2 separate regions of the Homo sapiens genome follow, and region 2 is linked to region 1. Evidence: fine-mapped expression QTL. Tissue or cell type: whole blood. Region 1 holds a variant in brackets; the other region holds the start of a gene. All regions are shown on one strand. Distances are from middle to middle.

The links.
Region 2: PARP8 starts here. The variant in region 1 is fine-mapped to the expression of PARP8 in whole blood (INTERVAL, PIP 0.98).

The regions. Positions count from the first base shown.
Region 1 is chr5:50,611,895-50,627,918 of GRCh38, forward strand. No RefSeq gene overlaps it. Among named protein-coding and RNA genes, the nearest start is that of PARP8, 47 kb to the right of the region's middle. The variant T/A (reference allele first, on the strand shown) is at 8,179.
Region 2 is chr5:50,659,372-50,675,395 of GRCh38, forward strand. It overlaps PARP8 (poly(ADP-ribose) polymerase family member 8), which reads left to right and starts at 7,266. Exons shown (of 26, transcript NM_024615.4): 1 at 7,266-7,815; 2 at 8,700-8,754. The coding sequence starts at 7,725. RefSeq lists silencers at 7,109-7,258, 7,309-7,368, 8,061-8,390 and enhancers at 7,541-8,453, 7,889-9,088.

The DNA.
Region 1 (16,024 bases):
TAAGAAAGACATACCTATAGACTCTTATTTGATTCAAGAAATAGCGAAGTCATTATTTGACAACTTAAAGTAAAAGGAAGGTGAAAGATCTAAAGCTGGAGAATTTAATGCCAGCAAAGGATGATTTGATAATTTTAGAAAGTGGTTTGGTTTTAAAAATGTCAGGATAATGGGAGTAGCAACTTCTGCCAACCAAGAGCCAGCAAGTGAATTCTCAAATGCCATTAAGAAAAACATTGAGGAGAAAGGATATCTGCCTGAACAGGTATTAATGCAGCTGAAAGTGCCCTATTCTGGGGTGGGGGGGAGGGGGAAGCCCCAAAGGACATTTATTCATAAGGAGGAGAAGCAAGCACCAAGATTTAAGGCAGGAAGGGATAGGCTAACTCTACTGCTTTGTGCAAATGTAGTCGGGTTTATGATCAGGGCTGCCCTTAACTATAAAGCTGCTATCCCCTGAGTCTTGAGAGGGAAAAGAGAAACACTAGTTTCCAGTCTTTTGGTTGTACAACAAGAAGGCCTGGACTATGAGAATGCTTTTTCTGGATTGGTTCCATCAGCGCTTTGTCCCTGAAGTCAGAAGTACCTTGACAGTAAGGGACTGCTTTTTAAAGTATTTTTTTTGTTGTTGTTTAATTGGAAAATGCCCCCTGGCCACCCAGAACCCCGTGAGTCCAACACCAAAGGCACCGAAGTGGTCTCCTTTTCCCCCAAACACATCTCTAATTCAGCCTCTAGATAAGGGAGTCACAAGGACCTTTAAGGCTCTGCACATGGCACTCTATGGAAAGGTTTGTCAACACTACAAAAGAGAACTCCAATAGAGAGAACATCATGGAAGTCTGGAAGGCTTACACCTTTGAAGATGTCATCAGGTGATATAGAAAAAGTCATGAAAACCATGAAACTCAAAACAATAAGTTCCCGCTGGACAGAAGTACAATTTGTGTCCAGATGTTGTGCATAACTACAGAATTATGACAAACCCAATTAAGAAAAAACCCTGGAAAGAAGTATGGATATGAAGGGAAAAAAAGGTGTGGAGTGAAGGGTTGCAAGATATGGATCTCAGAGGAAGTTAAGAGCTAATAGACACCACACCAGAGGAATTAACAAAAGATGACTTGATGGAGATGAGTACTTCCTAACCAGTGCCAGATAATGAGGAAGAAGACATAGGAAAAGCAGTGCCAGAAAACAAATTGGCATTCAACAATCTGGCAAAAGGGTTTTGATTATTCAAGACTACTTTTGACTTCTTTTATGACATAGACCCTTCCATGATACAGGAACTAAAACTAAGGCAAATGGTGGAAGACGGATGGGTACTACACCGAAATGTTTTTAGAGAAATGAAAAAGCAAAATAGACAGAAATAATGATGTATTTTTGTAAAGTTTCACCAAGTGTGCTTGCCTTTTCTGCTTCCCCTTCCATCCCGTCCCCCTCTTCCACTTCTGCTACCCTAAGACAGAAGGACCAGCTCCTCCTCCTCCTCTGCCTACTCAACATGAAGACAACAATAATGAAGACCTTTAGGATGATCCACTTCCACTTAATGAATGGGTCATATATTTTTCTCTTCCTTACAATTTTCTTGATTATGATTTCTTTTCTGTAGCTTAGTTTATTGTAAGAATACAGTATATAATACACATAACATGCAAAATATATCTTAAATGTAACACGTTATCAATAAGCCTTCTGGTCAACAATAGGTTATTCATAGTTTGGGCGGAGTCAAAAGTTGTATGCGGATTTTTCACTGTGTGGGAGGCCAGCTCCCCTAACCCTATGTTGTTCAAGGGGCAACAATATTCTTTCCCGCGGGTGCTTTACTTTCCACAAATTCAAGTCCCAAAAGTAGAACTGCAAGTTCAAAAGGATTTTTAAAAAAATACTGCCAGATTACATAAAGTTTCCAATTTACATTCTCACTACCAATGTACAATGTTGGCATCCCTGAATCCTTATCAGCAATGAATTTTTAAATATACTATAAGGGATGAAAAAATATTTTTTTAAGTTTGAAATTCCCTGATCACTAATGAAGTTAAGCATCAATATTATTCCTTTAATATGCAAATGCTGAAAATACATTTAACTATAATAGATGTCAAAAATCTGTAAATCAGGCCAGGTGTGGTAGGCACTCACCTGTAGTCCCAGCCACTGGGAGACTTGAGTCCAGGAGTTCAAGACTGTAGTATGCAATGATCAAGCCTGTGAATAGCCACTGCACTCCAGAGTGGACAACATAGCAAGATTCCCATCTCTTAAAAAAAAGAGTCTTATAAGACAAAGGTCCTTGTAAATTAAGAGAAGCCAAAACAGTCACTGTGCCTGCAGAATATTTTAAATTGTTTTTTATCATACTTTAAGTTCTAGGGTACATGTGCACAACGTGCAGGTTTGTTACATATTCATACATGTGCCATGCTGGTGTGCTGCACCCATTAACTCATCATTTACATTAGGTATATCTCCTAATGCTATCCCTCCCCCAGCCTCCGACCCCACAACAGGCCCCAGTGTGTGATGTTCCCTTTCCTGTGCCCATGTGTTCTCATTGTTCAATTCCCACCTATGAGTGAGAACATGCGGTGTTTGGTTTTTTGTCCTTGCAATAGTTTCCTGAGAATGATGGTTTCCAGCTTCATCCATGTCCCTACAAAGGACATGAACTCATCATTTTTTATGGCTGCATGGTATTCCATGGTGTATATGTGCCACATTTTCTTAATCCAGTCTATCATTGATGGACATTTGGGTTGGTTCCAAGTCTTTGCTATTGGGAATAGTGCTGCAATAAACATATGTGTGCATGTGTCTTTATAGCAGCATGATGAATAATCCTTTAGGTATATACCCAGTAATGGGATGGCTAGGTCAAATGGTATTTCTAGTTCTAGATCCTTGAGGAATCGCCACACTGTCTTCCACAATGGTTGAACTAGTTTACAGTCCCACCAACAGTGTAAAAGTGTTCTTATTTCTCCACATCCTCTCCAGCACCTGTTGTTTCCTGACTTTTTAATGATCGCCATTCTAAGTGGTGTGAGATGGTATCTCATTGTGGTTTTGATTTGCATTTCTCTGATGGCCAGTGATGATGAGCATTTTTTCATGTGTTTTTTGGCTGCACAGATGTCTTCTTTTGAGAAGTGTCTGTTCATATCCTTCGCCCACATTTTGATGGGGTTGTTTGCTTTTTTCTTGTAAATTTGTTGGAGTTCTTTGTAGATTCCGGATATTAGCCCTTTGTCGGATGAGTAGATTGCAAACATTTTCTCCCATTCTGTAGGTTGCATGTTCACTCTGATGGTAGTTTCTTTTGCTGTGCAGAAGCTCTTTAGTTTAATTAGATCCCATTTGTCAATTTTGGCTTTAGTTGCCATTGCTTTTGGTGTTTTAGATATGAAGTCCTTGCCCATGCCTATGTCCTGAATGGTATTGCCTAGGTTTTCTTCTAGGGTTTTTATGGTTTTAGGTCTAACATTCAAGTCTTTAATCCATCTTGAATGAATTTTTGTATAAGGTGTAAGATCCAGTTTCAGCTTTCTACATATGGCTAGCCAGTTTTCCCAGCACCATTTATTAAATAGGGAATCCTTTCCCCATTGCTTGTTTTTGTCAGGTTTGTCAAAGATCAGATGGTTGTAGATGTGTGGTATTATTTCTGAGGTCTCTGTTCTGTTCCATTGATCTATATCTCTGTTTTGGTACCAGTACAATGCTGTTTTGGTTACTGTAGCCTTGTAGTATAGTTTGAAGTCAGGTAACATGATGCCTCCAGCTTTGTTCTTTTTGCTTAGGATTGACTTGGCAGTGCAGGCTCTTTTTTTGGTTCCATATGAACTTTAAAGTAGTTTTTTCTAATTCTGTGAAGAAAGTCATTGGTAGCTTCATGGGGATGGCATTGAATCTATAAATTACCTTGGGCAGTATGGCCATTTTCATGATATTGATTCTTCCTATCCATGAGCATGGAATGTTCTTCCATTTGTTTGTGTCCTCTTTCATTTCCTTGAGCAGTGGTTTGTATTTCTCCTTGAAGAGGTCCTTCACATCCCTTGTAAGTTGGATTCCTAGGTATTATTTCAAATATTATTTTAAAACAATGAGATATTGAAAAATACATTGGAGCAAATTCTTCACTCTTAAATCCTTTCAGCACAGAGACGATCAACTGACTGTCTGGGTGCTACATGAGCACTATTGGAGTCTCTTTCATCTGCCTGAGTCTGTGCAACAATATGAAATTATAATTTTACTATGCACCTAAAGTTTCCTCAATATATTGAATTATTACAGAATTTGATGAGTCAAATTTTGTAAATTCAGTTACCTTTTTCCACTACTCTAGGACTCATATACTATCTGGCCTAAGGGTTAAAGGTCCACAATTGAATGAGCCAAACTTGTTAATTTGAGGGTAAAGCATGTCAAGAAATCTGGCCTTAATGTCCAATGAACTTATATCATATTAAGTAGCTGGATAGAAACATGCATTCCAAAGTGGATACTATTTATCACGCTCAGTGCTCTATTCTTGAGAGTAAATCCCATGATAGGGTGGATGCTTTAATTGTGTAGTAAATAGTATTAGGTGTAATATCAAAACCACTAAGGGAACACTGATGATGTGAATAGGAACACTACCTGTGGATCTGGGAATTTTCTATAGAAATCCTATCTCTTTCAATTGCCTGTTTAGTGGGCAAGTTGTTTCAGTTCCTATAATATCTAAATTGGAGAAAATCACACCACCTACTTCTTCAGGTGTTATGATAATTATGAGTGATGACATCTTTTTAAGTGCTTAACACAATTCCTCACACATAGAAAGCAATAATAAACATTGGCTAGCATTGTAAGGATGTTTATTGTCTTCTAATGTGTTTTCATACGTTTTCTCTCTGGGATCTTGAGTGAAACATGTGGATCTAGAACAAGAACAAAATGATATTACCTTAATGATCTTTATGTATTTACACTCAAGGTGTCTTAAAATATTTTGCTGGCCAACAAAAGACACCTCCTATTCTAACTGGGCATTGTCCTTTTCTTTAAACTATGCAGACAAACAATATTATAAAGTGAGAACATCAGCATAAAAAACATAAACATAAATCTTAATAGTGAGTTCATGAAAATTCTTACTGACGAAATGGCAGTGTCACAGACTGAATGTTTATGTCCCCCCGAATTTGTATATTGAAATCCTAACCCCCAGGGTATTCGTGTTAGGAGGTAGAGCCTTGGGGAGGTGATTAGGTCATGAGGACAAGATTCTCGTGAATGGGATTTGTGCCCTTATAAAAGAGATCCCAGAGAGCTCATTGGCCCCTTCCAAAGTATGGGGATATAGCAGGAAGTTGCCATCTATGAGCCAGAAGGGTGGACCTCACCCCAGATGATAAATGTGCCTTGATATTGGACTTCCCAGCCTGCATAACTGTAAGAAATTTCTGTTGTTTATAAGTTACTCAGCTTATGGTATTTTGTTACAGTAGCCTACACAGACTAAGACGAGTAGCATTTTGAGGATTGAAATTTCTTCATAAATGAATACAGTATGCCCTGTTAAACCATATTCTCAGCTAACCCCATTTACTCACTGTTCCTCTTTATTTTAGTTTCACATTTTTGCTATTTATCTCTGTAATTTTATTCATTCTTCACAATTTGCCATTCTTATACTTCGAATCATGTTATCAGTTTAAAATACCTCCATCAAATGATAGTCTGCATTTGTTTATCCTTGGCTGATTCAAAACACTTGGCATAATTTCCTTTAAATCATCTTCCTCCCATCTCACAACACTGTATTATTTTCAATTAATTTCCAATAAACTCTTAATTGTCCATGCTCTGTCAGAGTTGGCAGAGTTAATCCCTGTTTAAGCTGATAGGTTCAACTTCTTCAACAAACAAATCTTTCATGAAAGCTGCTGACAAGCCAGAGTATTAATTAAATCTAGTTTTGTTGCTTCTCACTTTCCTTTATCTTTCTCTCTTGTTCTTTGGGAAACAGTCACAGAGTTCTGGTGCTAATAAATACTATAAAAAGTAGGGAATACAGTCTAACGAAGCAGAATATTCTCTTTAAAGTTGATGTGGTGCTTTTTGTGCACCAAGCATTGGCTCAAACGCCCAAAAATTAGGCAGCAAAACTTCCTAAGCTCATCTTCAACCATAAGGCAGAAAAGCCAAATGTATCTGAAAATATAATATCACTGGTACCTTATACCAGCACTAAGAATAAGAAAACCCTGGAAAGTGGCTCGAGTACAATATTTTTCTATTGGAATTAATTTTTCAAAATGGAAAGGACTTCATTGTTATTTTTATTATAAAATTAGTATATGTTTATTATTAAAAATAAGTACAAAAATATCTAAAAGAAAAAGGGAAAAACTACCAGCAGTTCCACATTCCAGAGATCATCACTGTTAGCATTTAGGTATACAAATATCCAAACACTTTTCCTATCAATACAATTAATTTTTAAATTTGATCATTATGCAATGTACACATGCACTAAAACATCACACTGCACCCCATAAACACGTGCAATTATTATGTCAATTAAAAACAAAATAAAAACATTTTACAAAAAATCATGTTATTTTTAATAACTTGTTTTTCTAATTGTATATATCACAAAATAAATGTCTTTACATGACATTTATTTTATGATAATAACTAATTTATTCATTTAAACAGCAAGGTACATTTCATTCTACAGATATACTATATAATATTTACTCTGATCTCTGGATGAGAATTTATGTTGCCTGTAAATATTGTATCACAAACATAAGAATATTCTCTAAAAGGTTTTTTTCCTGTATTATTATTCGGGTAGAAAAATTACTAGAAATAGAATAACTGGGTCAAAGATTAAAAACAATTTAAACTTCAATATATAGAATCAAATTATTCTCCAAAATGTCGTACTGTACGGTATTTGAATTTTGATTTTTTTCTCCATTTTCCCTACTGCCAATAACTTTAATCTTTGTCGATCGATGAGACAAAAAAGACAAATAATGCAATACTATACATAGGGAGATTAATAGGTAGAAAAAGAAATGCAAATGGCCAGGATTAACAGAAGATGTTCAACATCAATCCAATCAAAGTAATGAGTCTTTAAAATGCAATAGCAGTCAATGTTAGCAAGATTGTAGGTATTAGACATTCTCATAGGAATATAAACTAGGGCCATGTTTTAGGATCATATTAGGTCACAGCAATTAAAAAATGTTAAATTCATATGCTCTATAGCAACTTCGCGGGTTGGAATTTATCACATGGAGAATCTTGTAAAATACATAAACCAAGATATGTTATTAATGTTATTCGTAGCCTATTGTTTAAATAAAAAATATATTTACACAATACAGTTTTTAAAAGTAAGAATATCTTGAAGGTAAATTAGTAAACAAAAATAGAAAGCCTAGGCCAGGCGAGACTTTATCTCATGCTTGTAATCCCAACACTTTTGTAGACTGAGGCGGGAGGATTGCTTGAGCCCAGAAGTCTGAGACCAACCTGGACAACACAGTGAGACCTCGTCTCTAGAAAAAAAAAAAATACAAAGCGTAGTTCTGAACATCATTTTGTGTAATACTAAAAGATAAAATTTTATTTTCTAACTTGTTTAAGATCTATATTCTATGTGGGGGATGTGTATTAAGGTCATTTTTAAAAAGATACTCAAGAAATTGTCAACAGTGATTATCTTAAGGAGAGATTCTAGATGTCTGGGGGTAAGAAACTAGAGGAAGGAGAATTTTATATTTCATTTTTACCTTTATTTAATTTTTTGATTTTCTTACTGGGTGCATGAATTATATTTTATGTCAGCATGTTTTATCAGATAAATAAAATTATGAGCTATTTCTGTTTCCTCTCATTTGTTTTATGTTTAAATAAAGGAAAATGAGGTATGTCTTTTTAAAATTTGATAATCTTGAGTCCATGATTATTATGAAAGCCCTCTGTTATCTGTTTACTTCCTTTCACAATGACTGTTTATGTTGTAGAATCATTAATTTCTCAAGACAAATGTCTTAGAAGGTAGATACAAAACATGGTATACATTTTTTGATTCAAGCTAATTTCATGTTATGAACAAAATTACATAATGTAATTTCTAAGACCTTTCTG[T/A]GATCTATCAATCCACTAGGTTAAATAGCAGAAATCACTTCCAAAACAAATCCTTTTGCAGTCAGCAAAATGAAACAATTATGTGAATAAGTTTTTCCACTTGGCCTATTTTTCTGTCCATGGTTATTAATCAGTCTCACTGACTACATTTTCCATTTTACATCCCCTTTCAGGCACTACTCCAGGTGGCCAAGCATATCACATTATGTAAATTAAATAAAACAAAATCTTTTCCCATCGAGCAAATGGATATACTTCACCTCTAATGCTTCCAGTCTTTCTCAGATCATTCAAAAAGCGTGATATCGTTTCCATAAAAGGATGTTCATCCCATTTGACTAACTGGAATTTCTTTAAGTAAAATTTTACTCCAGCTAATCTTTACCAAATAGCTGAATTAATTCAAGTTGACACCCTGTTATCTACCAGCTCTTCCAGCCCTTTTGCTTGATTGTTTTGTCATTTTGCCTTTTCTTCTCTTCTAAAGTGTGAGTATGGAGATTGACCCTTCTGAAACAGCTGTGTCACATCATGATCCTTGAGGATACCAGCTCTTAACTGGCTGCATATCAAAATCACTGTTTTCTTTTACCAATACACTAGACACACTCAAGCAGAGATTTTGGATTCTGATTTAATTGACACAGAGTAGGGCCTGGGCATTTTTAAAGCTCACCACATGATTCTATTGTGCCTCATCTATCCTAGCCCTTAAGCAGGACCAAACATTTCTTCTAACTTAATTATTATTCTCTTAAACGTAGTCCAATTCCTTACAACTGATAGATTTCTATATGCTCATCTGCCTTGAGTGATGACAATTGAATGGTTTGGCTCTGTGTCCACACCCAATCTCATCTTGTAGCTCCCATAATTCCCACATGTTGTGGGAGGGGCCCAGTGGGAGATAATTGAATCATGAGGATGGGTCTTTCCTGTGCTGTTCTTGTGTTAGTGAGTAAGTCTCATGAGATCTGATCATTTTTAAAATGGAAGCTTCCCTGCACAAGCTCTCTCTTTGCCTGCTGCCATCCATGTAAGATGTAACTTGCTCCTCTTTGTCCTCCACCATGATTGTAAGGCCTCCCCACCCATGTGGAATTGTACGTCCATTAAACCTCTTTCTTTTGTAAATTGCCCAGTCTCAGGTATGTCTTTATCAGCAGCATGAAAACAGATGAATACAACAATACTGTAACAAATCTACTCACATCTGTACTCTTTATAGGAATTGCAGTGCTAAAACATTAGTGGGTCTTAATTCTAAGAGAGTTAAAAAATATTAATGCTTGTCCCACCCCTAAAGTCTAGGGTGTGACCTGAGCATTAGGTTATTTTAAACTTTTCTCAGGTAATAAACATGTGCAGCCAAGGTTTAGAACCACTCTATGGGGCCAAGATATGTAAGAAAATTCAAATCCTTTAGCTGGGCATGGTGGCACGCACCTGTAGCCCCAGGTACTCTGGAAGCTGAGGTGGGAGGATTGCTTGAGCCCAGGAGAGAGAGGCTGCATTAAGCTATGATCACATCACTGCACTCTAGCCTGGGTGACAAAGCGAGATCATCTCAAAAAAAAAAAAGGAGAAAGGAAGAAGAGGAAGGAAGGAAGGAAGGAAGGAAGGAAGGAAGGAAGGGAGGGAGGGAGAGAGAGAGAAAGAGAGAAAGAAGAAAGAAAGAAAGAAAGAAAGAAAGAAGAAAGAAAGAAAGAAAGAAAGAAAGAAAGAAAGAAAGAAAGAAAGGGAAAGAAAGAGAGAGAAGAGAAAACAAGAGAGAGGAACAAAGAAAGAGAGAAAGAAGGAAAGAAAAGAAAAAGGAAGGAAGGAAAGGAAGAAAGAAAAAAGAAAGAAAGAAAAAAGAGAAAGAAGAAGAAAAAGAGAAAGAAGAGAGAAAAAGAAAGAAAGAAAAGAAAGAAAGAAAGAAAGAAAGAAAGAAAGAAAGAAAGAAAAAAAAAGAAAAGAAAGAAAGAAAGAAGGAAAAGGAGAGAGAAAATTGAAGTCCTGCCTTGTCAAATGTACTACTCCATTTTCCCTAAGGGATCCCAAGGGAAACTTAACTACAGGATAAAGACAGACAAAAGGACATAAATTACAACTCTAGGTGCACATATTATTTTGTTTCTGAAATTGGTTTTAAAATATCTATGTCAGAGTTCATTTCTAGAACTTTATCTCTAGAAAACATATTTTCACTTCTCAATACAGGAAAATGGAGATTGGAAAAATGAGGTTGGAAAATGATTTCCATGCTTATCTCTCAGCTTCTTTTTTCAACTTCCCTTTTTTCATCTCCATATCTTCACTGATACCTAAGAATCTCTGTTACATCACAGTCTTCAAGAGCTTTGATCGCAGCGAATTAGTTAAGACATTAGCTTTCAAAAGCATATGATATTCTCTCACAAGCATGTGTCTACTTTTAATAGGGCAAGCTATGTAAAGATTTTAAATCTCATTCCAGAGATACCACATCTACTCTACCTATTTATGAGAACAGTCATGTCTCTAGACCAAGATAGAAATTCATAGTTAGGAAATAAATCCCTGTAGGGTTTTCCCACAGTCCCAATATGTCCCCTACTATCCTGATTTTAGCAACAAAAATTCCCCATCCAGAAAATCCTTCATTCCTAAGTTGAAAGATTGGTCACCCTATTTCTATCTGTGTCTCTTTCTTTCATAATTGGCTCATAATCATAGCAGTCACAATTTTGAAACATTTTATTTTACTGAATTACTCATTGCTGTTTTCTCATTTTTTAAATAATAAACACTTCTTAAGAAACATTGGAAATATACCGAAAATAGTAAACAATAAAACAGAAACCATTGGCAGAAACAGTCACTATTAAAATCTTACTATACTCCCTTCCAATGTTATTTCTGTTAATGCAAATTTAAAAATCAGAGATTCGCCTCTGTGAACTAGATTTCTTTTTACCTTTAGATATTATTTGACAAATATATAGCTCAATCATCTATCCAAACTTCTCTTTTACAGACTCCATGCCAATTAACCTTCTCCTATGAAACTATCATTTCTTCACATAGGATAAATATGGTTATTGACACACAAGCTTTCTTAGTTGCATTGCGATCCAGATGTGCATCCCTAAATTTATACCACTTGGATTTAGAACGATCATTAATAAAGAGGCTTGGTCTTATCTCTTGCAATTTGCTTCTTCCTTCTTAAATTCAGTTCTTGTAATGTAACTATAATTTTGGGGTATCTTTTTGCCTCATATTCAAATTCTCTTTCAAACTGAGGTACATTTCTATATTTCTGTATTTGTATATTGTATATAATAGTATAGAAAACAATAATGAGATTACAGTGTTTGTAGAAGTTTTGAAGTATAAATATTTAATATATAAATATATTAAATATGTATAAAATATCTGATTAGTAATAAGATAATAATGTATCTACCTCCAAGTTTTAAAACTAGGACTTTGAAATATCAGCAAAGTCCACCTGCTTTGACCAGCATCTCTTCTCCCTGCCTGCTTTAATCATGTCTTGGGTCCTGATAAATTTGCCCCCACATCCCTCCCAAATTACTCTCCAACTCTGTTCTATGTTTCAGGAAAATAACATTTATTTTCCAGTCTCCTTTGCCCTCCATTTTCCCAGTAAGCTATCCAGTGAGAGATGCCGTAAAAGCCTGCCTCTTCTCTGTAGGGCTACTTCCCACCAGATAGCCCCTCCCGCTATGGACCCAATTCCCATTATCTCTAGCAACCTGCCTGAAGTTCTGGCCTCTTGGCTCTGGTAACAGCACCTTCTCCCATTATCGTTCTAGTCCTAGGGGCAGTACTGGTTTCTTGCTCTTGAGCTGCTGACTCACCAAGCCTGATTTGGCTTCCATCACTTGTGTAATCAGTCACCTGTATTAAATCAACTCTGCTTGAAAGTCCAAGAATAGTTTCTGATTTATAAGCAAACACTGAAAGCTCTTCTATTTCTTGTTTGTTAAGCAAGATTTGTCAAAGTTAAATTTTTATTTTATTGAATTCACTTTTTGCCTCTCCTACAATGATGATTTGCTTTTCCTCCTTTAACTTGTTAATGTGATGAATTATACATAGATTTTTTTCTATTGTTAGAAATCCTTGCATTCATGGAATAAACACAATTTTCATACTATATTATCTTTTTTATAGGTTTCTAAACTTAATTTTATAACTTTTAATTTAAAATGTTTGCCATTAGGTTCATGAGGAAAGTTGGCGTCTAATCTTCCTGTCTTACACATTTCTCGTATAACATTGGTATCAAGATTGTATTGGCCTCATAAAATGAACTAACAAATGGACCTTTTTTTATTCTGGAGTTGTTCTTATAAAATGGAAATAATCCATTTCTTGAAAATATTTGATAGAACTCACCAGTAAAAATGTCTGGGCCTGCTGGTTCTCTTCTTCTAAGAAGAATTTGGAACTTATAATTAAAGCTCTTTAATGTGTTAGAAAACTTTCCAGGTTTCCTTGAACATGAATAAATTCCAATGATGAAAACCCCTCAGATATTAAATATAACCTTAAATATAACCTTTCCCCAATTCAATTTTTCTTTTGCAGATCTGATTAGATACTCTAATTTTTCAACCTCTATTTCACATATCAATTTTCCTTTCCTCCTCTGTACTGTCTTCAGCATAATTTTTTTAGTCTAACTTCCAACTCACTTATTTTCTTTTTGGTTCTATCCAATATTGTGTTTAACCTGTCCATTTAGTTTTTAATTTTCATTATATTTTTTATTTCTAAAAGATCTCTTAAATTCAGTTTCAATCTGCTTAATATAAGATACACACACTGTCTCAATTTATATTCCTGGCACACCTCATTGATTTTTTAAACATATTAAACATAGCTTTTATAGTAATATAATCATTCTAATATCTGAAATCTTTATGGGCATAATTCTCTTTCTGCTCATGATGTTTATTTCCTCATGAGTTTTCTAAGAGTCTTAGTTTTTTCTCATTTTGGATGAAATTTTACCTGTGGCCATTCTTTGAGACGTGGGGTGAATGTGGGTTTCTCCAAAGACACTTTGCCTTCGTCTTGTGTTTGGAGGTAATACCAACATGGGATAATGATAAAATAAATTATCAGTTTGATGTGCGGGTTTTTTTTTTTAATTACACTTACAGTGAAAATTTAAACCACAAATTCATGTGAAGATGGCCTTGTAATTTTTCCTCTAAATAGCACCGAGTTTGAGGCAGGAAAATTTCCTGGTTGTCTCCCCCTGAGGAACAGGTTTTTATCTAGTTTATCCTTTCACTGAAATTATAGTCCTTCGTATCTCTGGCTTTCAGGAGTTTTCTCCTGTAAGACTGTTATACTGGGCAGGCACTAGGTTTTGTCTCACACTTTCCCATATTCCAGGTGGTCATAAAAATTGAAGCTCAGGGTACTAGGGCCAGGACTGTCCTTATGGAAGCCTCTGGTTTGGGGGTCTGCATACCTCTCTGGATTTATGTATTCTCCTTATGCTTGGCCTATGTGGTTCACCTTAATTTCTATTCAAGTCAGTAATATACTTTTGAAAAATGACATGTACATTTTATCTGGTATTTGCAGATTTTATATAGCAGGATAGTGATTCAGCAAATCTAGTCTACCACAACGCTAGGAATAGAATTCCCCTAATTTTTTAAAACATTATATCAAATCATGTTTATTGCCATTAATAGTCTTATAAGTGTGATTTTAAGTAAATGCATTTTGTTATAACTCGTTGTGATTGTATATTTAACTAATTCACCCCTACCTCATGTTTTTTGGGAGTGAAGGTTGTACTCAACTCACTATATTAAGTAATACTACAGTAAATATCAATCTATACATGCATTAATAATGATTTCCAAGAAAGTAGTGAAACATGGTCATAATCATCTTTGAGGCTGATGGTATATATTTTCAAATTGCATCTCAGAAATAATGATACCAATGTGTGCTCTAATCAGCCGCATATGAAAGTGTCGTCTTTCTGTTCTCCAACCAATACAACTACCACTGTTTTTGTACCTACAAATCTGGCAAAGATGTGAGAAGGCATCTTATTGTTTCAATTTGTATTTCTTTGGTGACCAATGTACTAAATTGCTCTTTTCCTATTTATCATCCTTTTCAAACAAAATGTAAACCATTTTTTAAATTTTTTTATATTAATGCAAATCCTAAATCACTACTTTATTTATTCAATTTCCTAAGCAGAATTATATGTTGTCCCATTTATACATTTTATATTAGATCATTCTGCCTTACATTTATATGCTAAAAACTGCCAGAATTATATAATAATTATGAACAGTTGATTATAAATAATGTCTTTATTAGGATATTTCTCCATAAATCTAAATTTCATCAATCTTTCTTTAAATATCTCTACACAATTTCCTCTTGTATTATATTACTAATTGCAGATACACTTCTTTTTGCTATTTCTATTAATTCTTTCCTATTCCTATTGTCTGTTAGTCTCCCATTCTTCTCCCATAAAATAAATAAAAATTTTACTATCAGATTCTGTGATATATTACTTCTTATTCCCAGCCTTCAACATTTTAAGAATTCAGATTGACCTTTTCTCCCATTATTTCAAGTTATCAGCATGTCAATACTTGGGAAATCTCATCAAGTGTTTAACAGTGCATACCTTACTGACTCATTATTTATTTCAGTTTAATCTTTCTTATTTTCATTCAATATTTTTCTCAGTAATATGACTTTTTCAAGCTTTTTATTTTCTAATGCATTTCTCCAAATAGCAGCCATAACCCTTATATGCCCTCTTTCAATGACAGCAACAAAAGTGTGCTAGGCTTCTTGGAAGAAAATAATTATACCAATTTAAGAAGGAGAAAATTGATGTACTGATAAACAAATGGGCATCTTAGGATCATGTTTCTCACAAGTAAAGCAGTTCCAGAAATTCCTAGGACCCTAATGGGTTTTATTGTAAATAGGTTAAACATATCACGTAAAAAATTGTTTTCTACAGTTCTCTAATATTGCTTACAATTGTCCACGTTTCCATGTTTATAAACTTGCCTTTTTTTTTTTTTAATGGAGTTTTGCTGTTGTTGCCCAGGCTGGAGTGCAATGGCGTGATCTTGGCTCACTGCAACCTCCACCTACCAGGTTCAAGCAATTCTTCTGCCTCAGCTTTCTGAGTAGCTGGGATTATAGGTGTGTGCCACCACACCTGGCTAATTTTTTGTATTTTTAGTAGAGACGGGGTTTCACCATGTTGGGCAGGCTGGTCTCGAACTCCTGACCTCAGGTGATCCACCCGCCTTGGCCTCCCAAAGTGCTGGGATTACAGGCGTGAGCCACTGCACCCAGCCTTATACTTGCCCACTTTTTAATTCTAAGAACTTGCTACTCAATGGAGGATCCTGGGACCAATACCATCAGCATGACTTGAGGACTTGTTTGAAAGCAGACTCAGAATCTGCAATTTATCAGGATCCCCAGGTAATTTGTATGTGCAGTCTAGTTTGGTAGATCTGCTCTGGCAGACTGGAAGACTCTTCTATCTGCCTCATGTAAGGTGCAGGTGACATAATTAGGTAATCAAGCAAAAGATCACATTTTTTAATAAGAAAGAGACACTGGCTATTATTTTGAGTGGCAAAACAGGTTATTCAGTCCCAGTTTAAAATGGAAATGACAGAGACCAAGATCAAGATTTCTAATTTGAGATGTGCCTGTGATGCAATTACATTTGCTGAATGAAACTGCTTCAGTAATTAGATGCAGGTTTCTTCTCTCTTCTTTTTGAGATGTAGAGAGGACACAATAGGCTCATGGAACTTAAAGAACTCGACAC
Region 2 (16,024 bases), 47 kb after region 1:
AATGTTTAGTCAATTAAAACTTTGTGGGGCCAGGCACAGAGGCTCACACCTATAATTCCAGCCCTTTGGGAAGCAAAGGCAGGAGGATCACTTGAGCCCAGGAGTTTGAGAACAGCCTGGGCAACATAGTTGCACCCTGTCTCTACAAAAATTTTTTTTTTAAACTGGGCGTGGTGGCCTGTGCCTGTAGCTGTTTGGGAGGCTGAGGTGGGAAGATGACTTGAACCCAGGAGATAGAGGCTGCAGTGAGCCATGATTGTGCCACTGCACTCCAGCCTGGGTGACAGTATGAGACCCTGTCTCAAAAAGCAAAAACAAAAACAACATTTTGAAATGTCATAGTAGGCATATTACAGGCTTAAAATTATTAAGAGAGAAATTTATTTAACTTTATTTAATCTATTTTCCTCCAAACTTACTTGGACCTAGATCTGTTTTGGGAGAAAACCTCATTACATAATATGAAATTAATATACTATAAAACACTCTTGGGGAAATGCTTCTCTTTTGTAAAGAAAGCATGAAACTTTGAAAGTGAGTGCAAATTAAAATCAATCAATGCATGTATACTGTGTGCCTCCAACCTACTAAGCGTTGTTCTATGGGCTATTTAGGGGCAGTGAAAACGAAGTAGCAGGCAGAATTCAAGTCTCAAGTAATTTAAAAACTACAGCAATAAAAGACAATAATTAAGACCCCCTCTTGTGCATTACAGATGCTCCTCAACTTATGATAGGGTCATGTCCCAGTAAACTCATCATAAGTTGAAAATATCAAAAGGAGAAAATGCATTTAAAATACAAACGTACTGAGCATCATTGTTTAGCCTAGCCTACCTTAAATGTGCTCAGAATACTTCCATTTGCCTATAGTTGGGCAAAATCATCTAATACAAAGCCTATTTTATAATTAAGTGTTGAATATATCATGTAATTTTTGAATACTGTACTGAAAATGAAAAACAGAATGATTGTATGGGCACTTGAAGTAAGGTTTCCACTGAATGTGTATTGCTTTGACACCACTGTAAAGTTATAAAATCTAAAGTCGAGCTATCATAAGTTGGGGACCATTCGTGTGTTAAGATAGTCTCTATGGTAGCCTCTTCCATGGTTACAAAGATCAATAAAAACAGTTCCTGCATGCAAGGAACTTATAGTCTAGAAATGGGGAGTTCAAGGATGAGGGAAGATTAGCGAGTTGGAAAAATCAAGACAGATTTTTTTGAATAAGGTAGCATTTGGTCTGGAGTTGGCTTAAAAATTTTTTTTCTTTTCTTTCTTTTCTTTTCTTTTTCTTTCTTTTTTCTTTATTTTTATTTTTTAAGATGGAGTCTCCCTCTGTCACCCAGGCTGGAGTGCAATGGCGTGATCTCGGTTCACTGCAAACTCCGTCTCCCGGGTTCAAGTGATTCTCCTGCCTCAGCCTCCTGAGTAACTGGGACTACAGGGGCACACCACCATGCCCAGCTAATTTTTGTATTTTTAGTAAAGACGGGGTTTCGTCATGTTGACCAGGCTGGTCTCGAACTCCTGCAACTCAGGTAATTTGCCTGCCTCGGCCTCCCAAAGTGTATTTTTTTAAATTTTCTAACAAATAAAAATTTAAGGCTTTTGTGTAAGTAAAGAGTATCTATAACAGAAAATGAATTGCTATCTAGAATATATAAAAACTTCCTACAAATAAATAATACAAACAAAAAAATTCAATTAAAAAATAGAGGAAATGACAGGCAATCATACAGAGACTATACAAACTGTCAATAAACACTTGAAAAAATGCTCAATATCATTAATAATCAGGGAATTACAGACAAAAACAAGATGAATACTTTACACCTAGCTGGTTGAAAAAAAATTAAAGACGAATGGTATATACTGTTGGGAATGTTGCAGGGAATTAGGTATTCTCAAAAACAGTGGAGTATAAAATGATAAAGTAAATTTGAGAGCAATTTGCTTGTATCTATCAAATTTTTAAATTTGCCAGTTCCCTGTGAGCCAGCCAGTTCCCTGTGAGCCAGTCAATTCACTTCCCAAAGAAACTGCTGAAACTGTGCATAAAGTTGTGCATTTGTTGTAAATTGTTTTAATCACAAAACATTTTGCAAAAGCCAACATGATTGCAGAAGTACGGTTAACACTTATTATACTGCATTCATTCAATATCATTCTCTGCAGTGGCTAAACAGAATGAGCTAGATCTCTTTCCATGACAAAGAAAAAAAGCTCTTCAAGACAAGTAGAAAAATTAAGTTGTGGCCAGGCGCGGTGGCTCATGCCTGTAATCCCAGCACTTTGGGAGGCCGAGCGGGATGGATCATGAGGTCAGGAGATGGAGATCATCCTGGCAAACATGGTGAAACCCCGTCTCTACTAAAATGCAAAAAACTAGCCAGGTGTGGTGGTGCACGCCTGTAGTACCAGCTACTTGGGAGGCTGAGGCAAGGGAATTGCTTGAACCCGAGAGGTGGAGGTTGCAGTGAGCTGAGATCATGCCACTGCACTCCAGCCTGGCAACACAGCAAAACTCCATCTCAAAAAAAAAAAAAAATCAAGTTGTAAAACAATATATATTATGTAGTTCCATTAAATTATTATTATTATTTTTTGAGACAGAGTCACTGTGTCACCCAGGCTGGAGTGCAGTGGCCTGACCTTGGCTCACTGCAACCTTTGCTTCCTGGGTTCAAGCAATTCTTAGGTCCCAGCCTCCTGAGTAGCTGGGACTACAGGTATATGCCACCACACCTGGCTAATTTTTGTATTTTTAGTAGAAACGAGGTTTCGCCACGTTACCCAGGCTGGTCTCGCACTCCTCACCTCAAGCAATCCACCCACCTTGGCCTCCCAAAGTGCTGGGATTATAGGCATGAGCTACTGTGCCCAACCTAAATTAAAATTTATATGTATAAATCTGTCAACATATGTACATCTGTGTGAAGATATGAGAATGCAGTAATGCAAGACATTCCCACAAAGTTATTAACACTAGTTACCTCTGGGACGAAGAGTGAAATTAGGGGTCAGGATAGGTAAGAATTTTCACATTTTACTTTATGTACTAATATATGTCTTAAATCATTTGCGCTGAGAATATATTCATATAGTATTTATGTACTTTCTAAGAAAAAGAAAAAGAGGTATTCAAAAGAAGGAATTAATATGAATGAATACAAGCTAAGAATGAGTTTGTTTGCATGGCACAGTGAGGCATCTCATCTAATTATGGTCTAGAATGCTTCTAGGTAGAAAGGGGAATTAAAATTTTACAGGAAAAATGGATCTAAATTAAAGTGAAATTTGGAACTAGAAAGAAGAGTTAAGGTTTCATCCTGTAGCTTTAGTATTACCTAGGTTAGTTAAGATGCTAGAAAGGGCCATAAAACCTCAACACCACCCCTGTGCCGTCACATTTGACCTTAGTAACCTAACGGGGGGTATGGTAAGAACCAAAATGTGACAAATCCACAAAACATCACCTAAAGTTCTCCTTCAGCTTGTCAAGTTTATTCAAAGTTGACTTTGGTTTTTTACAGTAGACCTATCAGAAGAGGTCAGAAAAGTAGGATTAGTTTCCAAAGGCAGCTTTTTCTTTTCTTTTTTAAGAAACAGGGTCTCCCTCTGTCATCTCAACTAGAGTGCAGTGGTATAGTTACAGTACACTGCAGCCTCAAACTCCTGTGCTCAAGAGATCCTCCCAAGTAGCTAGCACTACAGGTATTCACCCACATGCCCAGCTAATTTTTATTTTATTTTTTGTAGAGACAGGGGTCTTGCAATATTGCCAAGGCTGGTTTTGAACTCCTGACCTCAAGCAACCCTCCCACCTCAACCTCCCAAAGTGCTGGGATTACAGGCATGAGCCACCACACCAGCCAAGCAGCTTTATAAGGAAAGAATTGCACACGTCCCTCTACTTAGAAGAAGGTAGTTGGGCCCTTAGCAGGCATTTTGAATTTTACGGATTTCTTTCCATTACAGAACCACCGCAAGCAGAAGCTATATCAATCTCATAATTAGAAAGAACTTTTCAGATCATCTTCCTTCCAGTGGCTCTCCATTTTTCTCAGATGAAATCCCACTTCCTCACCTTTGTTTAAAGGCCCTTTGTGGTGTCTTCTCACAGCAATGCCTCGGCCCCTACCTTGTCCCTCCTTCACTGATTCTGCCACAAAAGCAAACTGTCCCAGTGCTGTTTCCACATCCCAGCAAGGATGGTAGGCATTCCCATGGGCATTTACCACTGATGACACTATCATGCATATGGCAAAGAAGGCTGTTCCCCTCTTTGCTAATCCTGCCTCCTATCCTCTTCTTAATAACCATGGAATAGCAGAGGTCAGGCTTGTACTTTTCTTAAGACTGTACTAATGGCTGGGTCATTTGGGAAAGGAAGTTGAATGCAAGAAAGGGAAATATAACTGCCACTAGCAGAGGCTATTTTGAGAGTCCACAGGCTTCAGCCCTCCTCAAAATCCATCATAGGGCTTCTTGTCGGCTTCACTCCTGGCCTGCAGCCATTGGCGGGGCGGTTTACTTCCTCGTGTGGCTTCTGTACATATTTATTCCTTTAAGTTCAATTCAATTGCTGAAAGGTTTCAAGAGAGAAAAAAACTTCTTGTAGTCCATGTCTCACCTTAGATGAATTAACCCCTTTGAGCCTGTTTCCTCTTTTGTAAAATGAGAAAAATAACAGCTAGTATATACGGGTTATTGTGAATATTAAATGAGTAACTATATGTAAAGCTTTTAGAACAGTTTCTACCAGTTCTGGATAAATGTTAATGAATTCTGGATAAGTTCTGGATAAATATTAAGTTCTGGATAAATGTTAGTTATTAATACCCACATCACATTATTGAACTTAATGCCGCATGTCCATTACCTTATACTTCCGCAGTTGGGCCTTTTGGCACAGGCAAAAAATTTATATTTTTCACTAATAAATTATATCTGGTGGCTTTGAATCATTATTCTAAACCGGTGGAATTTTTTCAGTAGAGTCTATCATCCAACATGTAGATTATTATCTTCAATTTAGTTTGGGATACCACCTGAGTTCTCCCTCACTGTAAATATTGATTTTATTTATTTAACAAATTGGTGAAGGGCCTCTTATGTGCCACGTTCCTGAATGCATGTGTGTGTATGTTGTATACTCATGAGTGTTTAAGGAGAGATAGAACTGTTTCATCTCAAAGGCGCATATAGTTTTTGATAAGGGAAGTATGTTGAGCACACATAATATAAACATTTAAATATTCGGAGATGGGGCAAGGTAAAGAAAGGATCCTGGATATGGGCTGACTTACTTTGAGCAAAGTGCTCCATAAGGATCTAGCCTGGAAGATCCTTGGAAGGATCTACGTTGGTATAGTTTTTAATTAGAGAAATTTATCTTGCAGAAATACATACTAGATAGGTTTTTATTTTTTAATCTTACTCCTTCAAATGTACAAATATTTATTAAATACATCACACCTTAAGGGCATGAACAGGGTGAGGTTAGCTTTGTTTAACCAAAACAGGGCAGCCCATGAAGCTTAAAAAAAAATCAAATATAGGACAAGTCACAAGAAGGCCTATTTTAAGGAGTGAGTAGTAAACTAAGAGCTCATCCAGACAAAAAAATATTTGGTAGCTTTAAAACTATTTCACATTTATTTGTAGTAAGGGTTCTACTTGGAAGATGCAAGCCTTGTGGCTAGATAACTATAAAATAAATTCTTGTGAGTTAATAGACTTTCAGCCTTTCAGAGAAATTAAAGCACATAATGGAAGAAGAAATACTCATGATTCTCAGTGGTGATGTGGAAGAGAAGAGAGCATTTTTGGCAGCCAAAGGGCCTACACAAAGCAACATATCCAGGAAGGACAAAGGGCTTGAACCTGTCCTACCCTAAACAGGAAGCATTTCAGGAGAGGACTGAGCAGGAGATATAGACTGTTGTGACTGTGGCTTTACTACATCAAAGGCTGCAGTGGATCTCAATAATGCAGAATGTTTCCTTTTGTAACTCATAGTGAATATGACTGGACAAGGAAATTATTTTGTAATTTGTTTCCTGAAAGATAAAGGAGTTAGAACATAGGATCTTTCATTGATTCTACAGAATCTTAAGACTCCTTCAGGGATGGCAGTCATTCCTACCGTGCTGAACATCATGTTGTCACGGTCAGAATCAGAACTAAATTGATTAAGGGTCTGAAACAGTTTGGCAACTCTTGGGCACTTATGCTGATAAGAAAAGTGATGAGACAGGGTAATGAAAAGAGGCTGCAAGAAATGACCATTCGTGCATTCAGCCAACATTTAGGCCACCCTCCTGTATTCCAGGCACTGTACATGGCACTGAGTATGCAAAGCAAAAGGAGTCATGGTCTACTGGCGGGAGCCTTCTCAGTGGAGAAAAGATCAACAAGAAAAGTGCCTGCTGGAGACCTCTCCTAGGGCATAAACCAATATAGAGGTGGGGCAGCTACGTCAGCCTGGGGTGTCCTTAGGCAGAACAGAAAGTGAGAATCAGAGCAGTATCTCATTTCTGAACACCTGGATTGTAGCTTTCCCTTGACTGTCAAAGGAGGTGGTTTTAAAAATCAAGCCAAACAGGTTTCCATCTTTTAGGAAGACCCTGGAACGTGCCAGTTGATTCTGACCATTTCTCATGAACAGAAACACCTAGGAAGGGAGAACTGGTGAGTTTCAAGAGGAGGAAGTCCCTCAAAAGGGGCTGTGTTTCGTAAACGGCGCCCCAAAAGGGCTGAACTACTTCGATCTGGAGGAAAAAGACTCAGGCACTGAGGGAAGGGGAGGGTGCACGTCTGGAGTAATTTTAAGGCCTTTTCCGTGTTATGTGATGTGGCAATAAGGAAAGATTTGTTCGTTTTATTATTTTTTTAATTTTTAAAGATTTTCTTTTCCCCCCTTTTCCCCCTCCCAGCCACTCCGGTTTGGGTTTGCCACAAGACTATAATTCCTTTAGAAAGTGGAGTCGAATTCATAAAAGTGATGGGGGGAGGGGCGCGGAGAGGGAAGGCTGGGAGCCCCAGGGAGTCTTCACGACCGCTCAGCTCCCGGCGCGAGTGGAGGTCGGTGTGGGGAGAAGCGGCTCCCGCCCGGGATGGCTAATACTCTGCGAGCCCCGGCAGCCCGCGGCCGGCGGGGTGACTAGGCGGCGGGCGCGGAGGGTCTGCGGCGGGCGGGCGGCGCTGCAGCAGCCTGGGCACGGCTGCCGCCGCCCGCGGGCGCGAGTGTGCGCGGGTGTGGAAGGCCGGCGTGCGAGCCGTGAGGGGTGTGCGCGCGTGAGCCGGAGCGGGGCTCGCCCCTCGCCGGCGCCCGCCGCCCAGCCGGTGATTGCTCTCTGGCTGTCCCCGGCACCTCGGCCCCCACGGCCGTTGGTCCGGGCGGGTGAGGGAGAAAGTGAGACTTGGTGTCATCACCATCCATTGTCAGAAGGGGAGGAAATTGGAATCCAGCAGCGGCGAGCAGCAGCTGGGCGGTCACATCTGGGAATGCAAAGCCGACCTCCCCCTCCTCCTCCTCCTCCCCCTCCTCCTCCTCCTCTTCTCTCACCCAGGATCACTTCCGAAACCACTTCGCCTTCAGCCCCTGCCTCGGCCAGAGGTTTCATTTTTAACTGAATATTTACGAAAGCTGGAAGCGTGCGAGGGGGGTGGGGTGGGGTGGAAATAGCGGCTGCTTCTTTTCCAGGGATTTATTTAATGGGGATGTGTTCAAGGCAAGAGCGAATTCAGAAGGATATCGACGTCGTGATCCAGAAGTCCAGAGCTGAGAAGGACTGCCTGTTTGCAGGTGAGTTCTTGCTTTTCCAGAACCTCGGACCCAGCGCCCCCTTCCCAGTTTTCTGACCGCGACGTCTGTGGCTGGGGGTGGGGTGGAGGGTTGCACGTCCCCATTCTGGGGTTCATTTGGCAACAGCTGCTGCAACGAGCGCGGGAGCCAAAAGGGGGAGGGGGCGCCAGCCTCTCCCCTTCCCCTCCCCCACCGCCAAGTCTGAGGCAGCCACCAGCTTTGAGGGCAGAGCCCGCGTGGCCGGAGCGGGGGTCTAGGCGAAGGGGCAGTGCGTGGTATTTCCAGCCCCGCGTAGTGCCCGAAGCCTCCAAGCACGCTTCCTGGGTTCCAGCAGCGGCGGCAGAGCGGGGTTGGTTTGCGCAATGGGCTGAGCGGCGGCGGCCGGGAATGGAGCCTGCTGCGCTGCGCTGCGCTTGTAAGCTGCGCCCGGCGCCGAGGACCCCCGGGGGGCAGCGCTCGGCCCATCTCCGGCCCCTTCGGCTCCCTCTAGTCCCCTCCGACTGGCAAAGAGAAGGGATTCCTCGGATTCCCAAGGCACCCAGCGCCCCTGCCTGGGGGTCGCCTTTCGTCCATTTTGCTCCCCCGGGATTTTGCTTTCGCTACCGCGAGCCCGGCTGAGGCTGCTTCCGGCCTCCCCTATCGGGAAATTCCCGCTGTTGCCATGGCACCCGGCACTTGTTGCGGGGGGCGGCCTCCCGCTGCACCCAGTCGGGGGCGCGCCGCATCCCCTCGGACGCGGCGCAGAGGGACCTCGCCGCCCTCTAGCCCTTGCCTTCTGCCCGGCCAGGCCTCCCCTGACACCACCGAATGTGGGGCTCAAGTCCTGATCGGGGTTAAAACAAATCCACTCCAGGGGTAGCTTTTGACGGGACTTTCTGTTTCAGATTTCAGATACTCTGACTCCACCTTTACTTTTACCTACGTTGGCGGCCCCAGAAGGTATTTATGTGTATAGAGTTGCTTCATTTCCTGTTCACACTCTTGTGTTTCCTTTGTTCTTAGCGTGTTCCGTGTTCGGGTATTTTGGTTGCTTGTTTGTTTGATTATTGTGGCTTTTCTTTACCTGCTACCCAAGCCTGACGTCCCTCGGTTTTAAATAGCAGGAGGAGGGGAATCAATGTTTGATTCAGGTGTTTCGAGGACCACGCCACAGGCAATGAGCAGAACTCTTCATGTTGAAACTGTTCTGCTACAGTACTAGATTGCTCTCAGGCGATTTGGGGTTGATACAGGCACGCCGGTGCAAAACTGGAATACTGGATATGAAGTGAAATGTATAAAAGACATAAAATGTCACAAAATAGTTTGATCAGAAGTGTTGATTTTCCTGGTGAGTTGGGGCTGCGTGTTTCCATGTTTTCTGAAGGTTTACATAAACATGCAGCCTGCCAATTCTCTGTACATTTTTTTTTCAATGAGTGGTATTTCGGTTTTCACGTATAGAAATTGGAGACTTATATGTAGCTGGAGTGGATGACTTCTTTCTTTTGGGGGAAGAATGAGAGATGCACATTTCGTTAGTAAATTGTGAACAACTTGAAACAAACCCAAATCCAATTTTGAATTTAGGAAGTAGAGTTAAAATGAAAGGTAGCCATTCAAATACTATGCCTTGCTACCTTCACTTGTTGAGTTAGGATTTTCTTCCTTTTAGCCCTTTAGGGACACAGTAGTTTAAAAGAGCAGTAGCCACATATGAGAAGTACCAGATTTAGCTTAGAGGGAATTCCTTAGACCAGCCCTGCTGTTAGGACTTGACATTCAATATTGTTTGATCACATTCCAAAATATATCTTAGCTAATGGAAACATTTATAAACATATAAATTGCAAAAGAAGCTTTCTTGTGTACATACATTTTTAAAAGCTTGAAATTGATGTGAACTTTTAAAAACACGTAGGATCTGTATTACATTATACATCTCAAAACATTTAAAGTGAATATCATTCCAGTATATGCAATATACCTAAGCCCCAGAATTAGCACATTGATTTACTAGTTGAAAATATAACAGTGAATCACCAAACTTAAGTGTATACTTTTTGGGAGAGAATGAAATTACAGTATTTCTTAATTTACTGTAATGTCATCTTTGTAATTATGAATTAATAATTCAATGAGAGGAGACTTGGTTGATTAAATTAACGCTGGTCCTACACATTATATCTAAAGGATCTTCGTATATGACTAATATCCTCTTGGATTATTTTAACAGTTAAAATATACAAAGTGGCCCATTAAAAACAGAGTTGACTTTTCACTATTGCTGTTTTTCTGGTGAGACATGTGGACAGGAAGGACAGGTGGGCTTTTCAAGTAACTAGCTTTCTGATTTTTAATAAGATACCTCAGTTCTTTTGGCCTCAGTTTACTTATCTGTACAATCAAAGGGTAAATCATATGCTTAATCACTAAGATCTGTTAGATACTGCAGTTAAGATTCTTTATCAGCAAATTATTGGACTCTAGTGTTAACATAGCTAGAGGTGGAAAAGGGAGCAAGGCCAGGTGTTGGGATGAATAATTAAGCGAGATAACATCAGTTTTCACCATAGGAAGAAGTACCATGGTTGCTCTTAAAGTAAGAGATGTTTCCTATTTTATGTAATTTTATTAAAGGATAGTGTTTTCTTTTGTCACTGATTTAAATGTACCTGGCTGTTTCTCAGCCATTTGGCTAAGATCGAGCACAAGTGTACCTGAGCCTTTTATATCTAATCTAATGTAGACCAGCCTGTTAAAAGAGAAAGACAATTGGTTAAACTGCTGATGTGTTGCTTTGTCTTCTCAAAAGCTTGTTCTAAAATACAATATGTAAAAAGTTGTTACAGTGTAGTAACCGTAGATAATCCCTTTATGATTTGTACCTAATGGCGAATACCTTTTATTTTCTGAAAATAACGTATTTGTTTTCATTACCGACATTATAAACCAATATTTATTAATCTATTTCTTATCCTGACATTTCAGTCAGACTCTTAAAATAATCTTGCTGTGTTTTGATTTAATGTGCTTATCAACTTGTAATATTGAATTAATAGTATCATTTTAGGTGAACTAGACTTTATTGAAGGAGGTGGGAGCCTTATGGAGAGAGAGTATATGATTATCTCTATTTGTATTTAACTACCATTTCATCTAACCATTAAGAACATATTTCAAGAATAATTTTAATTCAAGTTGTAGATAAAACTTACTATACCGTTTTCTTTTTGATGCTTTCCAAGAATGAGATACATGGTATTTTAAAGACAAAGATTGATCTTACATGTTACTATTAAAAAAAAATAATAATTTTGTTCTACATTTATACTTTTAATTTTTCTGTGGATAATAAGAAATGCCAAGAGGCGATTGTGTCCATGCTGGCAAGTGGCCTAATAAATTGTCCTTTTATTTGGTGGTCCTCAGAGTGGCAGTTAACATCTTGCTATTCTGCCTTGTGGACTTGAGGTGGAAAGGTTCATGGAATTATATCCTTGCTTTTGGATGTGCAAACTGAGGCTCAGAGAGTTTAAGACACATAGTCACTTTCATCAATTAAATGTTGAAGCTGCCATGTAAACCTGTTCCATCACACTCCTGAGACCTCCTTCTTCTCCATTAGTGTTTTCAAGCTTTTTGAGCATGCAGACACTTTACCATCAAAAAATTATGTAGAGACATAATTGAGAGTTACAGTTTAAAGAAAAACAAGGTGTAATTATTTGGTTATAAGTAGCATTTACATATGCTTGAAAACTTGTGCTATATATACGGTAAGATTAATTTATTCTAGCAATGATCTTGATAATCCCCCTGATTCCCAGACTCCTTGGAATAGCTCCACAGCTATCAGTGGTTCTGCCACAGGTTCAGAGCCTTCCCAGTACTGCCTTCTTATTTGAGAGGTGTGCTAAGAACTATAAAGCAGAGGCTTCAATTGTACACAATTTGGAAGTTTAGGCAAAAGTCATTTCTTCCCTATACTTTGTCATACTTATCTTCTGTCTCTTTCTGTTTTACTGATTAGCAATAAACTCCTTAAAACCCAAAGGTTTGGGCTTCTGTTCCTTTCACTTGCAGTCAGACATGGAGTTAGTGGTAGAAGGAACAGAAGGGGTAACCTGCATGGTGACAGCTACTGAGGGGATGGATAGGAAAGCAGGCTGAGTCCCTGGGGCCAGTGGTTACCAAAGCCAAGGAGAGAGCAAGTGGAGCCCAGTGGGCCTGGCCATGGACTGCTCTGGAATTCCGAGTGTGAACTTTCAGCCAGGAATGTATTGTGAAAGTATAACTCTGAGGTTTTAAAAGTACACAAATAAGAATTGTGTTTTGTAAAAAAAAAAAATAAAAAAAAAGTTAGAAGAAGAAATACGCCAAAAAGAAGAAAGTAAAAAATACATGACTTCTGTCTTCTGTTAACATATTAAAATTTATTCTTTTAGATTTTTATGTGTCTATATACATATAAAATATATATGCATCCCCAAATTGTATTAATACTCTTTTGAGACCTCACATTTTTTTCACCCAAGAATATAACATTAATTTCTTTCCTTTAGAAAAGACATGAGACTAAAGAATGTTTATTAAGTTGAGAGTTTCCCAATTAAGGAGTATGACTCTGTATAATAATAAAGCTAATGTTTTATTAGAAATTATAATAAAATTAGAAATTTAATATTTGGCAGGATGTGTGTTGCCTGCATATGTACACCCTTTATTATATGACTGGACACTCTTTTGTGTGGTCATGGATATATTGGCATCTTTTGAAGTGTATCCTTTTTGTTTCAGGAGCTTCCGTCTAGATAAATAGCACGCGTGACACTAATAATAGTAATGGAATATTCCTTAAAGCACAGGCTCCTTCCTCTTTCTCCTGAGCCTTTGCACATGCTGCCTGGAAAACTCACCCACAACCTGCTTTCCATCCTCTCCTTTGGCTCATCCCTGCTCAGCCCTCTTTGTTAAGATATTTGCTAAGCCAGATTCTCTGAGAAGCCTTTCCTGGCATCTTCGTCTGTATGATTCTGCTAGGTGTTTCTAAAACCATGTCGTTACAGTATATTGTAATCGCCCATTTATGTCTGTTTGACTGTGAGCCTCTTGGAGATGGGAATTCTCTCCTATGCGTTGCAGTTTCCCCAGCCCCTAGCACACTGTCTAGCCCAGTATTCTTCTAAGTAAGTAGGTGTTGAATGACTTACAAAATGAATGCTAAAAGACCTGGCAGACAAGAAGGAATTTCCTGGCCTAAATGACCAGATGTGGAGAAGATACTCAGACACTTCAGGGTCCCCAATCTGGTGATGTCACTTGCAGTGGAATTTCATACGAATCCAGTGTGACAGAAGTTGCCTAGTCAAGTTATAAGTCCACTTCTCTGGGTCACATGTGCAAATACTTTTAGGGGACAGATAATGCAATATTTAAGATACTAGGGCGTGATGAGGACTGTGACACAGTGGAGAGTTTGGACTCCAAGGGTAATTAATTCAGTTGAAAAAATCAACAGCACTCTGTTGATCAAGCAAACTTTCTAGGGGCCCTAATCCACCTGGGCCCGCAGTGTGTAATTCCATAACTCATGGGATGCCATCAGGAGAGACAATCTACTTGATTGCTAAAGGGCCTTTGTTTTCTTTGGAGTTCCCCAGAAAGGAGAAGTGTATGTGTGTGCAGGGGTGAGGAGGGGGAGGGTGAAGAAGCAATGCTATCCCCTTAAAAAGGTTTGTCAATTTTCATTATGAAAGATCAGACGTGCCCACTCCAGAAATCTTGGCATATACAGTTACTTTGAAGCCATTCAGTGTTCTTCAAGATGTCACAATGAAAACAGTGATGATTTTTTAAATAAAAAATTAACATATTTCTCTTGGCAATGGGACTTTCTCACCATACTTTTATGTTATATCACTTATTATATATTCAAAATATTGATTTTTTAAAAGTGTGTTCCTTGGAGTCCTGGGAACCTGCCTCAGGAGCTGGGGTGGCTGTGGGGAGGGAGTGTGAAGGGAGCTGAATGAGTTAGTGAGAATCTGGGTCTTCATATCTTTTTTAAAATTGCAGCTGCTTTTTTCTGTTCTGTATAACAACTCTTTTTGAAAACAGTTTCATTGTTGAGTTTTAAAACCACTGACCTAAAATAACCACCAATTTAACATAAGTATAACTTTATTGAGTTTTTTTGTATTAAAATTTAAACTCCATTTTCTTCATGGATTAAGGTGATCCTATAGTGATATTTATTAAGCATCGTCTCTGCTGTTCTCTTTGCTTGCCTTGCTTTATCCCGTGTTTCCAAAAAACACAAATAAGTATTTTGTCAGCTGTTTTACGTTTTATAGCAGGAAAAACAGAGGCTTGGGTGATTTAAGTAAGTTACAGTTAGTAAGAGCCATAGGATACATTTCAGTGTAAGTCAATGTTTATGTAAGACTTAAGGGACATTGGTTGAATTGGCATGGCTAGAATAGTTGGGAATGTTTGGGAATGGGGAGAGATTGCTAATGGGATGTCTGCCAGGGGCAATACTGAAAATCTGCTGGTTGGCAAAGGTAGTGCCTGAGCCCAGTGCTAACCATAATAGTTGGAAAATTATGTACGTTGGCTGTGGAATCCTTATGCAAACATTTGGCAAATCCATGTAAATTTCCCATCATTTCTCTCTGCAGCATTTTTAAAAAGACATATAGCTGAAATTTTATCAATCCTAAAAATATTTTGTAATTATCTGCCCAGATTTGCATTTGGGTAGATTGTGCTGTAGAAGATATATCTTGCTTTAAGATAGCTGCCACTGATTATTTTAGTCTATTTTAATCAACTTATTGCCTTGTAATCTTTCCTTTTTCATTCTCTAAATTTCTGAAATTCCATCTTTCGTGTTCCCCAGGAAAGACTAGTAAGATGTGTTTTTATTAACAAGACTTACTATCCTCATTTCACCATGACATAAGTTGGGCTTTCTGTTCCAATTTATCCTACTTGAATGGTGGACACTTCCACCTGAGTATTTGTCATTTTCACCTCAACCCCAGCACATTAAAACAATCCCTTCTTAGCTCTTTAAAAGAAGCTTCTGTCTCCAGCCTTTTCCTAGTCAGTATCACATCTTTTGAGCCCGGTATGGGGATTACAGTTTCAGATTTCACCTCAAGTCTTCCTCTTCTGGTTCCTGAAGCTCTGCCAACCTCTACTTTGAAACACTGTTGGCCTCTTCATCCCATCCCATGTCAACATTTAGCCCATGCCCTGTTGGCTTTGACTTAGATCAATCGCCTTAACCTAGTGTCTTAAAATTCTTGATTTTGAGTTTCTTATCCATCCAGTTTATTTACACCTGAACTCTTTAAGCATGAAATTAATCATTCATCTGTTCAGAAGCCTTCAAATGTGACCACAGCTTTTTCCATATAGACCTGAAACTTAACATTCTTGGCCTTTGAGAGCTGCCTTCCCTATCCACTGATACATGTTTCTCATGCTTCCTAACATCTACATGCTTCTGTTTGCTTAGTGACCACCCCCCGCCCACTCATCAACAGTTTGTATTAATTTAGTGTAAAGCTGTGTAAAGTTTATTGATTGATAACATCTGTGTCAAGATCATGGTTTTTATCACAAAGAGCAGTTCATTGTATTTTTTCCTTGCCCACGAATGACATCTCTGTTCATTAGAATACATAACGTTTTACGCATAGGAGGATAGAGTGAGAATATGAGTAGAACAAAGTAAGAATAAGAGGAGAGGATAGTGAAATTTGAGGATAGGATGAGAATGTAAATAGATTTATGTCCATCCATTACAAGATTAATAACCACAATGACAAAAGTCTTGAATGTTATTTATTTGCATATGAGTGATATTTCAGTTTGTGGCTGATACCCTCTTGGTATTAAATGGAAGATGACAAATCATTCAATATTAATTTTAGAGGGAGACATCTATTGAAACCTTTGTGCAGTCAGGTCAAGTTTCTGTGTACAAAAATTAGCAGAGAGGTTGCTGCTGGTTGACTTCCCCTAGGATGGTGTCTTTCTGAACATTTTGAAATGTAGATTGAAAAGGTGGATTTGTCAACTAACTCTGAAGTGCTGTAGTTATTTGTGTTTTCATCATTGTTTTATTGTTTATTTTATTTTTGAGATGGAGTTTTCGCTCTTGTTGCCCAGGCTGGAGTGCAGTGGCCTGATCTTGGCTCGCTGCAACCTCCGCCCC